Regions from separate parts of the Homo sapiens genome. Here all the other regions are linked to region 1. The links come from fine-mapping of genetic effects on gene expression. A gene starts in region 1. Each other region holds a variant in brackets. All regions are shown on one strand. Distances are between the middles of the regions.

Region 1 (5,227 bases):
TTCAAAATGCTGGGATTACAGGCGCGAGCCTCCGAACCCGGCCGATTAATTTTCTTTTAAAGCAAAGAACAGTAGAAACTTTATTCGATTTTCTATTTTCTCCCAACTCCCATTCTCTTTTGTTTTTGAAGAACAGCAGAATGAAATGAGCTCCAGGACCCATCCAAGTAGGATATGATGGTTTGAACAGATTCCAGCATGGAACAAAGTTTCCATATTTTGCCTGAAGTCTTTCATTCATATGATTCTTCTAATGCTTCCTGGAAAATTCCAAGAACTTGATGTGAAATTATGCTTAACAGAACACCCAATTGGCCTATGGCAGGTGCATTAGTCCATTCTTGCACTGCTATAAAACAAAGAGGTTTAACTGGCTCACGGCTCCGCAGGCTGTACAGGAAGTCCGACGGCTTCTGCTGGGCTTCTGGGGAGGCCTCAGGAAGCTTACAATCATGGCAGAAAGCCAAGGTACAGCAGGCACGTCTTATATGGTGGGAGGAGTGGGGCGGGGGTGGGGGGGCGCCACACACTTTTAAAGAACAGATTTCACCAGAACTCACTATCACCAGAATGGCAAAAACAGGGAAATCTGCCCCCATGATCCAACGACCTCCAACACTGGGGATTACAATTCCACATGAGAGGTCAGGTGGGGACATAGATCCAAACCGTATCAGCAGGGTTAGAATAACTTTTTTGTTTTCCTCCTAAGTGTTGGGCTTATTCGTAGGGAGAGTATGGTAAGCCAAATAAAACTATAGTATACATAGTATTTTTCATATAGTATACATATTTTTATATGTAATATGAAAATAATGTGTCCAAAGGAAGGTGAGTGGAAACTACAGCAAAATACCAGAGTCTTTCTTTAGAAAAGGACAGCTTCTATTTTGATGTAAGAGTATGGCTCCTCATTAGCCCTAACTTGGACTACAGAATGACTTCTTCTGAGCAGAGCTTATAGGAGAAAATTTTGATAATAAATCAGGACTGATGACGTTTTTGTTTTTTGCCTGAGAATTTTCTCAGAGTTTCTCTGAGAAACTGTATCACAAAATTCCTATTAGATTGCTCTTATGTAGACAACTTGAAATTATTGGCAATTTCCAATTTAGCAAAATGTTGGCTATAATAACTTAGTGAATTACGACAATAACCCGTTTCTCTTAGGTTTCTGATATTTAAGTGTCCTTACAGGAGAAAGATGAAGTTATCTTATAATTGTCCAGCTCAACTGCTCATCTTCTTAGCATAAACACTGATTTGGAAAATACTTTGCGTATCACACGTAGGAGCCTGGGAATGTTCTCATCCGAACTAAACAGTGGTTAAAGGTTTTTCAACAAAGTTCTTGCTGCAATATCTGTTTTCATACCCAATTACTCAAACCAGGTCCTCTTCCTCTTTGCTTCCTCTCCTTGCAATGCCCTTCCCTCTCTTCCCTAAACTGGAGAACTTACTTATGCTTAAGATTCAGCGCAATTGTCACTCCCAGGTGAAGGCTTTCTCAACAAGGCCTCCCCGTCTGCTCCCAGAGCTCATGGCAAGCAGCTCGGCTTTTATCAGAGAATAATGGGATTATCTATTTTCCTGTAGGTCTTGCCCCGGGGGTGTAAGCTTCGAAGGCGGAGACTGTGTCTTTTACATTTTTTCCCGTTTTTATTGCCCAGCCAGCCCATGTAGGTGACTCTCGGTGTTTCCTAGGCGGCCAAACTGAAGGAGTTTCAGCTGGCACAGGGGTTCCCGCCAACCGAGCGTTTAAAAATAAGCAGCGGGGGACGTTAGGGAACAGAGGGTGTCCCTCACGACGACCGACTCTCATCAGGTCCACGCCGGCAGAAGCGATTTTGCAGTTTGCTTTGATGAGGAAAACGCTCTCCCTGAAGAGTCCCTGCACTATTTCTCCAACTCTGTGACCGAGACGCTGTCCACTTTTCTCTAACGGTGACAGGAAGTCAAGGGGAAAACGTGGGATTCAAAGGTTTGAAGGTAACAGCCCTCAGCCACTCGGGCTCGAGGCCCGCGGTTGACCCGAGCTGATGTCTGTGAGGAGAGGTCGCGCGGCGCCTTCCTCTCCACGCGCCTGAGATCCCACCCGTGGCCGCCGCGCCCTCAACTGCCTTCTCCTTCGGTGCCCCGCCCACCCCTGGGCGGAGAGCACCGTTCTCGCGAGAACGCTGCTGGCCTCGCCTCTTCGCATTGTGAGCTCTCGCGGTAAGAGGCTGAGGAGCCGGCCTGCAACCTGCCGGGGCGGCTCCGCTACGCGCAGCCGCCTCAGTGGCTTCCTCCACAGCCACCTCCGGAGGGATCTGGCTGAGGAGGAAGTGGAGGTGTCACTGGCCCCGGCCTTTGCCCCAATCTTGTGTGGGCACTGAAGGGGGACTACAGGTTCGAGAGTGAGTGGACTCAGCTGGGGAACTCGGCGGGGGCGGCGCGGGAGGCTGGGCTTGGCCGGGGCGAAAGAGGAAAGGGGCGGAGGGCGAATCTGGGCGTGAGAGCCAGGCTGCTGCGGCGGTGGTCTGGGCGGCCGGACCCTGCTCGGGTACCGTGGGTGGCGTTTTGGGCTCCGGCCACGAGCACCCAATTAGGAGAGGCCGGGATAAGACTTGAGTTTTGCGGCTGCTGCTTTTGGGTTGGGAGTCCGGGGGCCTTTCTCCGGGGATGAAGGCGATACCCTCATCCCTTTCCAGGGCAGAGGAACCCCGTGCCCCGCCCCTTTCCTGTCATCTCAGACGAACGCAGCGACATCCTGAGGAAGGCGCATCACAATAGGGGATAAGGTGGTGGGCAGCCTCCCTCTGGGTGAAGAGGAGTGAGACCCCACTAACGTGCTGCGTGGTTTTATGTTGTAACCATTTTACGTGTGGTAAAGCTTTGTTTTCTTAAAACTTGCACGGAAAAGGTTCTGATGTCTTTCTTCTTCAGATGCAGGTGCCCTGACACCCTTATCTTTGGGAATGGGGCGGGGGAAGGTGAGACATCGGTTAGTAATTTGTTAGTGTGGGCCAGTGTGACTGTCCCTGGGCCTCACAGATTTCCTGCTTCTCCTTTCTCAGTATTCTGAGTCCATGATGAAAAGTCACTAGTCCAGACATGCTGAAAGATAGAGCTTCACTTGCTTGTGGCTTTGTGCACTTAGTAAACAAGATTATTTTACGAAGATTTATTATCTTGCAGAGTTTTCATGCTTTTTATTTAAATTAGCAATCTAAATGAAACAGCACAGGATATTAATTGTATTTGGACAACTGAGTTCCTTCCCGCCCCTATCCTCCCAACCCCCCAACTACACAAATTTGATCAAAATCTTTTAGAGAGGGGGTTAGGGATAAATTTTCAATGAAAGAGACTGTGGAAATCGGAATAAGAGATATAATAAAGAATGCAGCCATAACGGCCAAAAGAGTTTCTGTATTAGAGAGCCTGTCCAGGATTGAAGTTCAGTCCTGAAACCCAGGACTGCAGTTGTCATTTGAATATAAAGCGGAAAGCAGTAGAAAATACTTGGGAAGGGATTTGAAAGTGGACCAAGACTGGTAAAAAAAAAAAAAAAAAAAGTGTGAGAAGAATTATTTCTGATGATGTAAATGTGTTTTATAAATTTTCCCAATATTTCTCAGCGTGTATGACCTAACAGCTATTATATTAATACATACAAAGTAGGAAGGAAGTTTCTGAAGCATGGAATGTGGTAAGGAACCACCAGAGAGTAACAGTGTTCAATCAGGAAAGCTTTTAGTGTTTCAACAATGTTTTTGTGTTCGTTCACCTTTTTTCTCACTCCCAGAAAAGCTTTCAGATAGACTTCTAACCCTATGTAATTATGTTACCCTTCCACCAGTCTGAATTTTCTTCTTTCTCACTCCCTCTAAGCCATGTGAATTTTTTAAATTATTAACTATGGAGTTGCAAACCACTGTGGTCTGCTTTTGGCTTTTTATAATAGGTGACTTAGGGAAGTATGGAAGTGATATGGAAAATATTGTGCACCTTTCAAAGCCATAGCATGAGCAACAAACTCACATGCCTTCGGGTACTAGTTAGATAATGAAAATGAGGGAAATGCACTATGCCTTATCAGAGAGACATCCAAGTCTCAGGTCCCCCTAATCAGTGCTATATAAGAATATGGACCCCATCTTCAGCATTCTCAAGAGAACTCGGAAATCTAGATTTTTGCATTCAGTGTCTTGCGTCTTAAAAATATTGACAACTAATTAAAACCATTAAAAATATCATGTGACTGAATCAAATCCAAACCTGTCCATAGTTGTATTCTCCTCTCCAGTTTAGAAGCTCTGTTATAAATCAAAATTAATAAATTTTATGACTGGAAAAAAAGGAGGTTTAAAGCAAGTTTGGAGTTTCAAACTTAAGGGGTCTTGGGAAAAATGTCACATCTAATTGAAAACAGTAGTTAAGTTTAATAGCCTTTAAGTATAGTTATAGTAGGGCAATTTGAACTGGTATTTACTATAAACGTTTTAACTGTGGAAATAACTGAAGAAAAAGCATCTCAGTATTTATGGTTTAAAAACTCAGAGTTCTGAGCAAAGCTGATTTATAGGTATCTTGTACAGAAATTGAATTATTTAGAAGCTCTTTATTGTATTTGCAGCTAATATATAAAATTAAATACAAGAGACCCTCTACAGTCCATTTCAGGATTTGAATGTTTATTGTTTGCTGTGCTATCCCACATTGTCTTCCTAGGCATTGACTTACTGGAAGAAATACTGATCCCTTGGATTTTATTCCATGCCAGATGGAGATTGGAGGGGTTTGGCAACAGGATGGAAAGAACTGGGTGGAGAAAGTGTGATGTGAAGCAAACACTCTTGTGCCCCTTCCTTACATTGTTCATTAAAAGATTGATTTGTGTTAGTTTTTCTTGTAAGAAGGATAGGTATATTAATTGATTAAACTTAGTGCCTTATACATAGTAGAGTTTAATGACGTGTGGAATTGACCTTTGTGGATTAAGCCTCATTTACCCATTAATGTGAAGTAATTTAATCACATAATCTGATTCATACCTAGTTGGGTTATGGGGAATGGGAGTGCTAGAGGTCAAAGCTAAGTAAGAGGTGTTTTTTAGGCATATAGAGGGCAAGTTGGGGGTCTTCACTTGGGATAAGGGTGAGAGAGGAAGTTAGGTAAGGGAGAGAATTTTGAAAAGGAAGATGAAATGATTAAGTACCCATTTGTGTATTGTGCAGTTTTAAAA
Region 2 (5,227 bases), 35 kb after region 1:
ACCTCAGCCTCTCAAGTAGCCGGAACCACAGATGCCTGCCACCACTCCTGGCTAATTTTTAAAAAATTTTTTTGTAGAAATGGTCTCACTATGTTGCCCAGGCTGGTCTTGAACTCCTGGGCTCAAGCCATCCTCCCACCTCAACCTCGCAAGGTGCTGGGATTACAGGCTTGAATCACTGCGCACAGCCTCTTTTCATTCTCTTAACACTGTTTTTTGAAGATCAAAAGTTTTTAATTTTGATGAAGTTCAGTTGTCGGTTTGCTCTTTTATGCATTAGGCTTTTTATTTCTAGAAGTTCTGTAGTTTTAAGTTTCAGATTTAGGTGTGTGGTCCATTTTGAGTTAACTTTTGCATATGATGGGAACTATTGCACAGAGTTCTTTTTTTTTTTTCTCTAGAATTGCTGAAAGTGAAATACCTATTGTATATTCATTTGTTCCAGCACCATTTGATGAAAAACTCTTTCTTCCCTGAATTGTGTTTGAGCCCTTGTTGAAAATGAGTTGTCCATATATATGTATGTGAGTTCTTTTCTGGAGTCTTCATTCTGATTCATTGATCTATGTGCCTGTCATTATGCCAGTAGCACACTTTACTCATTACTACAGTTTTTTAATATGTCTTGAAATCAGATCATGTTAGTCTTCCAACTGTTCTTTTAAAAAAATTATTTAGGCTATTCTAGGTCATTTGCGTATTCATATGAATTTTGGAATCAGCTTGTCACTCTTGACAAGCAAGCCTACTTGGTTTTCCATTGGGATTATGTTGTATCTAGTAGATGAACTTAGGGAGAAAATTGACTTGTAAAGACGGTAGGTTTCTCCATTTGTTTAGGTCTTCTTAATTTCAGTAATGTTTTATAATTTCCAATGTGTGAGTTTTTCACATCTTTTGTCATATTTATCCCTAAGTATTTCAGGTTTTGCCAATGTGTGAGTTTTTCACATCTTTTGTCATATTTATCCCTAAGTATTTCAGGTTTTGGTGTTATTTGTAAGTAGTGTTTTTAAAATTTCAATTTTAGGTTGCGTATTGTTGGTATATAGAAATAAAGTTCATTTTAAAATACTGATTTTGTATTCTGCAACCTTGCTGAACTCATTGGTTCTAGTAACCTTTTTTTCTTACTAGAGCCTACAATAGATGATCATGTTTTCTGCAAATAAAGACAGTTTTACATCTTAATCAATCTGAATGTCTTTTCTTGCCATATTGCACTGGCTATAATCCTCAGTACATTGTTGAAGAAAAGTGACAGTAGACATTCTTATTTCTGATTCTTATTTCTGATTTTAGATGGAGAGCATTTGGTCTTTGATTACTATTCTTTTTTTATGTATTGCTGGATTTGATGTGTTAAAATTTTGTTTAGAATATTGATATTTGTGTTCTAAGATTTGTGGTTTTATTTTCTTGTAATATTTTTTTCCACTTTCTTTTAGTTCAAAATTTTCTAATTTCCTTTTTGATTTCTTTATTGCTCTGTGAGTTGTTTAGGTAAAGGTATTATTTCATTTCCAAGTGTTTGGGAATTTTCTAGATATTGGTGTCTGGGCAATGTTGGTCTCATAGAATGAGTTGGGAAATACTATCTTCTCATCAATTTTCTGGAAGAGCTGTGTAGGGGTGATATTATTTCTATCTTAAATGCTTGGTAGAATTTGTCAGTGAAGCCATATGAGCCTAGAGTTTTCTTGGAAGGAATGTTTTAAACTACAAATTAAATTTCTTCAGTAAACAGAGCTATTCAACCTTTTCTTAAGTGAGCTTTTTTGTAGGTTTAAATTTGTCCATTCTGAGTTGTTGAATTTATTGGCTTAAAGTTGTTTATAATATTCTTTTATTATTATTTTAGTATCTGTAGCCTCTCTTATTTCTGACATTGGTAGTTTGTATCTTCTCGATTTTTGTCCCAAGCAGTCTGGGTAGAGGTTTAACAATTTTATTGACTGATGTCATTTTTCTTAGACCTTTCTTCTTTTCTAATGTAGGAATTTAATGCCATAATTTGCCCCTAAGTACTGTTACAATGTCATACCATGCCACAAATTATGGTATCTTGGGGTTTTTTCCACTTTCTTTTAGTTCAAACTTTTCTAATTTCCTTTTTGATTTATTTATTGCTCTGTAAGTTGTTTAGGTAAAGATATTATTTAATTTCCAAGTATTTGGGAATTTTCTAGGTATCTCTGTTATTGAATTTTACTTTAATTCCATTGTAATCAGAGAACATACTTTGTATGATTAAATTCTTTTAAGTTTATTGATACTTGTTTTATTGCCCAAAATATGATCTATCTTGAGAAATGTTCTTCTGTGTGCACATGAAAAGCATGAGTTTTCTGCCCTTTTTGGGTGTTTTGTAAATGTCAATGAGATCAAGTCAGTTGATAATGTTATTCAAATCTCATCAATCCCTACTGATTTTCTGTGTAGTTTTTCTGTTAAATATTGTGAGAGAGGTGATGAAATCTCTG[A/G]TGATAATTGTGGAATTGTCTAGTTCTCATAGTTTTATCAGTTTTTGCTTCCTGTATTTTGAAGCTCTCTCATGAGGCAGAGAAACATTTGGATTGTTATGTGCACTTAATAAATTAACCCCCTTATCTTTATGAAATACATTGGTGATATTCTTTGTTCTGAACTCTGCTTTGTCTGATATTAATATAGCCACTCTTGCTTTCTTTGAACTAGTGCTAGCATAGTGTATCTTTCCTCATTCTTTTATATTGAATCTCTTTGTACCATATAGCATATAGTTGGACCTGGCTTATTATTATTATTATTATTTTAAGACAGGGTCTCCCTCTGTTGCCCAGGCTGTAGTGCAGTGGTGCGATCTCCGCTCACTGCAGCCTTGACCTCCGAGGCTCAAGTGATCCTCCCACCTCAGCCTCCTGAGTAGCTGGGACCACAGGCATGTGCCACCACACCCAGCTAATTTTTGTATTTTTTGTAGAGATGAGGCTTTGCCACGTTGCCAAAGGCTGGTCTCGAACTCCTGGGCTCAAGTGATCTGCCAGGCTGGGGATCTAGCTTTTATATCCAATCTGATAATCTTCACCTTTTATGGTTTAGACAGTTTACATCTAAATGGCTAAGGCTATCTGTATTTAATGTGATTATTGACATGGTTAAGGTTAAGTCTTGTCCTGTTATTTATTTTCCGTTTGTCCCATTTGTTCCTTTTCCTTCTTCCTCCCAACCCCTTTTTTCCTTTGCCTTCTTGGATTAGCCAAATCCTTTTTTATGATTTTATTTTATCTCCTTTTTTGGTATATTAACTGTATTTCTTTTGTTTTCTTATATTAGTGGTTGCTTTAGTATTAACAGTATACATCTTTAACTTATCACAGTATACCTTCAAGTGATGTTATACTGTTTCTTGTGTGGTGTAAAAACCTTACAAAAGTATACTTGCATTTCTTTCTCCCAGACTTTGTGCTACTCTAGTTATATGTATATGTTATAAACCCCATATTATATTATTATCATTATTGTTTAATCTTTTATAGAGATTTAAACAATTAGAAAAAAATTATATTCTTCCATGCAGTTACTTTTTCTAGTAGTCTTCATTTTTTTGTGTAGATTCATATTTTATCTGGCATTAGCTTTTTTTTCTGCCTGAAGGACTCCCTTTTAACTTTTCTTGCAATGCAGGTCTTCTCATGATGAATTCATGTGTCTTTTTTTGCCTGAAAATGTCTGTACTTTCTTATTTTTTTTCGACAAATCAATGCAGATCCTTCTTATTTTTGAAAGATGTTTTTACTGGCTGTGAAAAACCTAGGTTGACAGGGTTTGTTTTCATTTTTTTTCTTTAAAGTGTTTGTAGAGTTTGTTGTGCATATTGAATCTGTGGGTTTGTAATTTTTGCCAAATTTGGAGAAAGTTCAGATATTACTTCCCTTTTTTCCTTCCCACTTCCTTCATGGACTCCATTTACACCTATATTAGGCCACTTGAAATGAACCTGCAGCTTACTCATGCTGTTTATTTTTCTGTTTTCTCTTTTTTATTTTGAATATTTCCTATTGCGTTGTCTTCAAATTTGTTAATCATTTCTTCTATAATGTGTAATCTCCCATTAATTCCATTCGGTGTGCTTTTCTTTTTTAAAGTTATTTTTAATTGACATGTAACATGTAATAATTATACATATTTAGAGGTACTGAGTGATATTTCAATACATGTATACAGTGTGTAGTGAGCAACTCAGGGTGATTAGTATATCACCTCAAACATTTATCATTTTTTAAAAATGTCAGGAACATTCAAAGTTCTCTCTTCTAACCATTTGGTAATATATAATAAGTTATTGTTAACTATAGTCATTTTAAAGGGCCATTTAGTATACTTTTCATCTCACATGTAAACATTTTTATCTCTGGAAGCTTGATTTGCATTTTTTTAATCTGGTATGTCTCTACATTGCTTTTTGGAGGGCTGTGGTTATAGTGACTTTTTAATGTTTTTATTTCTCATTCTAACGTATGTGTCAGTTCACGTTTTATTTCACTTGATGTTTTTTTTCCTCATGGGTTATGTGTTCTCACTTCTTTGCATGCCTGATAATTTTTGATTGGATGCCATACATTGTAAATTTTACCTCATTTGTGTGTTTGATATTTCTTATAAATATTCTTGAGCTTTGCTTTAGGATTTAGCTATAGGGAAACAGTGTGGTCCTTTTGGTCTTGATGTTAAAATTTATTAGGGGAACTGGAACAGTGCTCAGTCTAGTTGTAATTATTTCCCATTTTAGAACCTTCTAATTCTCTTCCCAGTGCCCTATAAATTATTAGGCTTTCCAGTCTGAACCAGTGGGAACAGGACCTATTCCTGACCCTGTATGAGTGCTGGGCACTATTTCCTCTAATCCTTTGAGCTGTTTTTTTTCCCCAGCTTCTTTTCATAGTGTCCTCACATGTGTGACTGGTATCCAGCTCAGTACTCAAGGAGGACTCTGCAAATTTCTGAGGTTTTCTCTCTGTGTTACACTCTCCTCTCTGGTACTTTTCCCTTAGAACTCTAGCCATCTCTTATCCCAATGTCTCAGCTCCATGTCTTTCACTCAGAGTCCACTGGGTTCTGCTTGTGTTTCCCCTTTCTGTGTTTACTTTGCAAATGCTCTCAAGATAGTAATTTGGGACAATTGTTGGGCATATCTCATTCGCTTTCCATTTTTCAATGATTGCTCTCTTTCATTGCCTGATGTGCC
Region 3 (5,227 bases), 89 kb after region 1:
CCTGCAGTGCACCTAGCCCCGGCCCCTCACACAGCTCTTACCATAGGTGGGGTTTTGGACACTATGGGGAAGGAAAAGTGGGGAGCAGGCCTGGCCAAAGAGAGGCTCCTTCACCTCCCTCTGCTCATCTAGCAGGTAGCAGCCTTTTGAGATGGCATTCCAGCTGCCAGTGCTTGGGCCCCCTGCCTGACAGGTATGGAGACCTCCCCATCCTCAGCCAAGGCCAGTGTGAGCTAGTGCCTGAATGAGCCTTTCATAGATTGCCAACCCCTTCCTCCACAGCAGCACAAGTGGATGCCTAGGGTGCAGGGCCTGTGGAATTCAAAGGTTAGCTGCTTTATCTGGAAGGAAATGTTGCTATTTCCTGGAGCAGTTTCATAAGCCAGGGCCTGCATGGTACAAGTCCTGAAGCTTGTCCCTTTGTTAACAATCCTTTCTAGCTTCTGCCAGTCCTGAGGCTTCACAGGTATTAGCAAGATGGCATTAAAGGATGTGATACTGGATGTTGCCTGCACCCCATTTCCCAGATGAGGAACCCTAGGCATCTGTTTGAAGCAAGGGGAGCTTCAGATATAGGAAAAGTACTTACAAAACAACAGTGTTAGTTGAGACAATATATTCTACTTCCTTGGTCCAAGGGTTCATGAAACTGAACCATCGACTCCGTAGTGTGATAAAAGAACCATCTTTGATTTTAAATTTATAGCAATTAGTTGTAATTTTTTCTCTCGTCTGTAAAACTGAAAATGTAAAGAAAACATGGACATTGTTGTTTTCTCAGACCAAAGTATTAAACAGGACATCCAATACAAAATATTAAAGGTACTTGAGCTCCAACGACATCGCTCTTTAGTAAGCCAAGGAAACTGCAGTGGTCAACACTCAGGAAATAGGTTGTTTCTGAGGGTCTAACTCAGAGCCTTTCAATTCATTTGTGAAGCTGTCATGATTTTCCATAGTCTGTAAAATTGAGGCTCTAGGGAATTACTGACTGCATGTTATACATCTAACTGGAATCAGCTCTAACATGACCACCAGCAAATGAGAAGGCACTGTCCAAAATGTCATGCTTTATCTCAATCACAAAGCCCAAGGGCAATATAGAACTTATCTCATTTCTAAGAACATCCAAATCAACAGAGGCTACTCACCTATTCAACCTCATTCTTTCATGTAACATGTAATGAGCCCTTCTCATGTGCCAGGCACTGGAGATACAAGAGGAGACAGGCTATGACTCCTGCCCTCAAGAAGAGTAGTGAGGGAAGGCTATACAGGGAGAAGAGATCAGAGCCTTGAGGGATGAACACGAGTTTGCCAAGAGAAGGAGGGAGGGAAGAACCCAGCAGTGCCTGAGGAGCAGCAGGGTCTGGTTGGGGAGAGGCCAGTGAGGTCAGTGTGCCTGGAGCACAGGCCTCTGCAGGCAGGGATGGGGACTGAAACTGAGGAGGTGGGCTGGGGCCAGAAGGTGGAAGGTCTCACATTTGATTGCCTGTCAAAAGCATTTGGGCTTGAGTCTAAAGCAGGAGGTTTTTAAGCAGGCTGATGTTACCAGGCTCAATCTATCTGGGGATAAATAGGATAACTATGGAAGATGAACTGGGGGTGAGAGGGATCAGAGAAACCCTGAGAAGTCTATCACAGGTCTCTAAGTAGGCACGAGGGCCTGAACCAGGGTGATGGCAGAGGTGGTAAAAAGTAGACTTTTGGAAATGCATGTCTGAGGTGAATGAACAGGATCTGGTGGAGACACAGTGAAAGAAGGGGTCAATGTTGGTCTCTCTCAGGAGCCTGCACATGAAGCCACAGCATTAGTCAAGACAGAAAACACAGGAGGTAGTGCAGGCTTGAATGGAAAAGAGAATCAGATCAGTCTGGGCCATACTAAATCTTTACAGGGTCTGGGAAAACCCTCTGAACAAGAGATGTCTTTCAGAAACTGCCATGCAGTCAGCACAGGGCAACTACAAGGGGGATAAACAGTGCCTGCAGGTATCAGCTTCCTCTTCACACAGATGTTCTGACCTGAAGAGTCCTAGGCTGGCTGACTCTACATCCTCAGTGGACAGATTTCCCTGGAAGGTCATGTTGACTAGTCTAGAAGCAAGGGGACACTTTCAACTTAAGATCTTTCATACATCCTAGCTTACCTTGCCTATGACATTCTGCAAGATGTCCTATGTCATCTTGGTGAAAATATTCATAACACGATGTGCCTAGAAGTTCTTGTGGTAAATATGCCAAAATAGCTGTTGCCCTAAAAGGGAATAAAGGAATATTTAAAGAAGAAAAAGCCATTCAGATGATTAATTGCAACTTTGCAATGGATAAACCCTGCTACAGCCTATGAGAGCAAGGTCAAAGCTGCAGGCAAAAGAGCTGGATGGATTTTCAGAGGGCTCACTGTGTGGATCTTTCTCTCTTTTTTTCAGGCATCTGAATTTAATCAAGGCTATAAAAATAGAGGGAAACAGAGCAAAGCCTTTGTAAAGGGACTATTATCACAAGAAATCAAATCTGAGGGGGCTTTAAAAATTGCAACCAGTCGGGCATGGTGGTTCATGCCTGTCATCCCAGCACTTTGGGAGGCCGAGTTGGGCAGATTGTCTGAGCTCAGGAATTCAAGATTAGCTTGGGCAACATGGTGAAACCCTGTCTTTACCAAAAACACAGAACAATGAGCTGGGTATGGTGGCACATGCCTATGGTCACAGCTACCTGGGAGGCTGAGGTGGGAGGACTGCTTGAGCC[C/T]GGGAGGTCAAGGCTACAGTAAGCCAAGATCTCGCCACTGCACTAGATCTAGCCTGGGTGACAGACTGAGATCTGTCTTTAAAAAAGGAACCACATTAATTAGATTAAAATGTGGTATAAATCTAAACCTCAGTGCAAGGCTTCTAGTTTTTGCTGCCTCCTTTTTATCAGGACAACCAAATGCCAGAAGCTGCAGCAGCTGAGGCCACAAGACAGCTGAGGCTGTCTCTTTTTCCAGCATGTTGTGGCTGTCTCTAGTAGCCAGAAAAATTATTAGCCTGTGCATATTCTGAGGGAAAGCAGTAGGCAGCAGTAAATTTGGGACACCTGGGTCCTTGGTCCAGGTCTATTACCAATTAATTGTGAATCCTACAGGAGACCAGTCCCCAGGCTGGCCTCTGTTCTTCATCCATAAAATAAGGAGGTTGGATTAGATCAACGCTGTCCAACAAGACTTTCTGTGATGATGGAAATGTTCTATGTCTGTGCCGTTAGCCACATGGGAGGCTACCATGGCCAACGAGTATTTTATTGGACAGCTCAGGACTAAATAATTGCTTCCAAGTCCTAGATTCAAAAGAATTTCAATCACAATAATGGTTCTGGAACATTCCATAGATTCAGACAGCATGCTATCCCTACTGTTTTTCTTTTAGCCATGGACATCAAGGCACCCCACTTAATTGTCTCTATATGCCAAAGAATGACAGAAAAATCTCTGTATTTATGATGATATCCTATTGAATCTCATTTTTTAACAGAGACTCTCATCATTTGTCTCTTTTTTTTTGAAACAGGGTCTCACTCTGTTGCCCAGGCGGAAGTGCAGTGGTGCAATCACAGCTCACTGCAGCCTTGACCTCCCGAGGCTCAGCTGATCCTCCTGCTTCAGCCTCCAGAGTAGATGGGACTACAGGTATGTGTCACCATGCCTGGCTAATTTTTGTATTTTTAGTTGAGACAGGGTTTTGCCACGTTGCCCAGGCTAGTCTCAAACTCCTGGGCTCAAGTGATCCACCCACCTTGGCCTCAAAAAGTGCTGGGATTTGAGGTGTGAGCCACTGCACCCAGCTTTTTCTTTCTTTCTTCATTCTTAGAAAAGCCAGCTGATGGCCCAGTCTTCTCTGCTTTTTAGATCAGGGTTGAAAATCCTCTACCATCATTGCTCAAGGGTAGTATGTAGACTCTTACCTCTGGTCTACAAAAACAAACTTTCCATCTATCGCGTGCCGAGAAACATATTCCATAGATTTCACCCTGATTTCCCCGTTCACTGGTTGTGGAACTACATGAGAATGCAGTCGTCCAATTGCGACGAGGCAGCTGAGGTTACACCCCTCATTGTCTGGTTCGTTGTCTTCATCCAGCCCCATCTTTGTGGGTGGCCAGCTTTTCAAATAGCCTGTGCTGTGGATTGTGCAGAAGCTTTTTCGATCTGCTAGAAAGCAAAGTTCGTGGTTAGTGTCAGCACTAGGTTTGGGCCATGGAGGTGTACACGGCCGATGGTGGGATGGGATGTAGGTAGGGAGTCAAAAAATAAAAAAAAATCAAGGCTTCACTCTCCAGAAGTAAGCATCTAATGAAAGGGGCAGACGGAAAGAGAAACAAACTGTCATCCAGTGTCAGAATGCTTAAGTAGGGCCAGTTATACCATGGACATTCATTACATACACCAAGGAAGGAATATCTAACTCTTCCTAGGGAGAGGAAGGCTCCCCCAAAAAACCAGTAGAGGAGGTGGATCAAGAAGGATGAGCAGTGGCTGAGGGACTAGAATGTATAAAGGCTGATGACGTACACAGGCACAGAGGCACAGCCTATATAGGAACTGGCCAAGAGCTCTGTGTGGTTGAAGTGAAATTGGAGGTACTGGGAGTGAGGGGCAAATTGGAAAGGCAGGTTGGAGGAAGATTAAAAGGGCCTTGGATTACTTTCTAACCAATGTTGGTCTGTCTTTTTAAGGCAGGAAATGGAGAGCATCTACAGGTATTTAAGTGCAGAAACAGCAAAATCAAATTGTGGTTTGGATGCTGTAGGAGCAGAGTGACGTATGAACTGGAAGACAGTAGAAAACAGAAGTAGGAAGGCTGATTCAGGGGCCAGTGGCTATAATACAGCAAGAGATTAGGAGGACTGAACTATGGCAGTGCAGTGAAGATGAGAGGGAGCAGAGAAAGAAAGCAGGAGAAATTTCTGAGATCAAACTGTTGGGATTTGCTGTGAATATCAGGCTTAAGGGAAAGAAACAAATGAAGATGACTCTAACTTTTCTGGATTGGGTGGTTGCTGGTGTCATTCACTGACTCAGAGAAGAAAGAAAACAGACTAGAAGAGAGAGAGAGAAAAAAGATAGTTCGATTTGGGACACATTAAATGTGGAGCACCTATAGACTTCACCAACAAGCAAACCACTATGGAGTGTCTGCCAAGCGTGGAGTCTGTGCTGGTTACTGGAATAGAGTGAAAAACAAATCAG

Which allele goes with the higher level. Positions count from the first base shown, and alleles are read on the strand shown. Sizes are in standard deviations (SD) of each study's normalised expression. Not every link is listed here.
In carriers of allele T in region 3, the expression in uterus of the gene that starts at base 2,266 in region 1 tends to be higher than with C alone (moderate effect, 0.50 SD a copy in GTEx).

Evidence for each region. PIP is the estimated chance that this variant, and not a neighbour inherited with it, causes the effect.
Region 2: its variant is the best candidate, but not a certain one, in a credible set for the expression of BTBD10 in whole blood (INTERVAL, PIP 0.53).
Region 3: its variant is the best candidate, but not a certain one, in a credible set for the expression of BTBD10 in uterus (GTEx, PIP 0.68).

The regions. Positions count from the first base shown.
Region 1 is chr11:13,460,261-13,465,487 of GRCh38, reverse strand. BTBD10 (BTB domain containing 10) reads left to right here and starts at 2,266. Exons shown (of 9, transcript NM_032320.7): 1 at 2,266-2,396. RefSeq lists an enhancer at 1,897-2,086.
Region 2 is chr11:13,424,785-13,430,011 of GRCh38, reverse strand. The region is part of intron 2 of BTBD10 (BTB domain containing 10); the gene reads left to right. Among named protein-coding and RNA genes, the nearest start is that of BTBD10, 36 kb to the left of the region's middle. The variant A/G (reference allele first, on the strand shown) is at 2,484.
Region 3 is chr11:13,371,125-13,376,351 of GRCh38, reverse strand. BMAL1 (basic helix-loop-helix ARNT like 1) reads right to left here. Exons shown (of 20, transcript NM_001297719.2): 13 at 3,943-4,189; 14 at 2,151-2,257; 15 at 590-740. Among named protein-coding and RNA genes, the nearest start is that of BTBD10, 89 kb to the left of the region's middle. The variant C/T (reference allele first, on the strand shown) is at 2,752.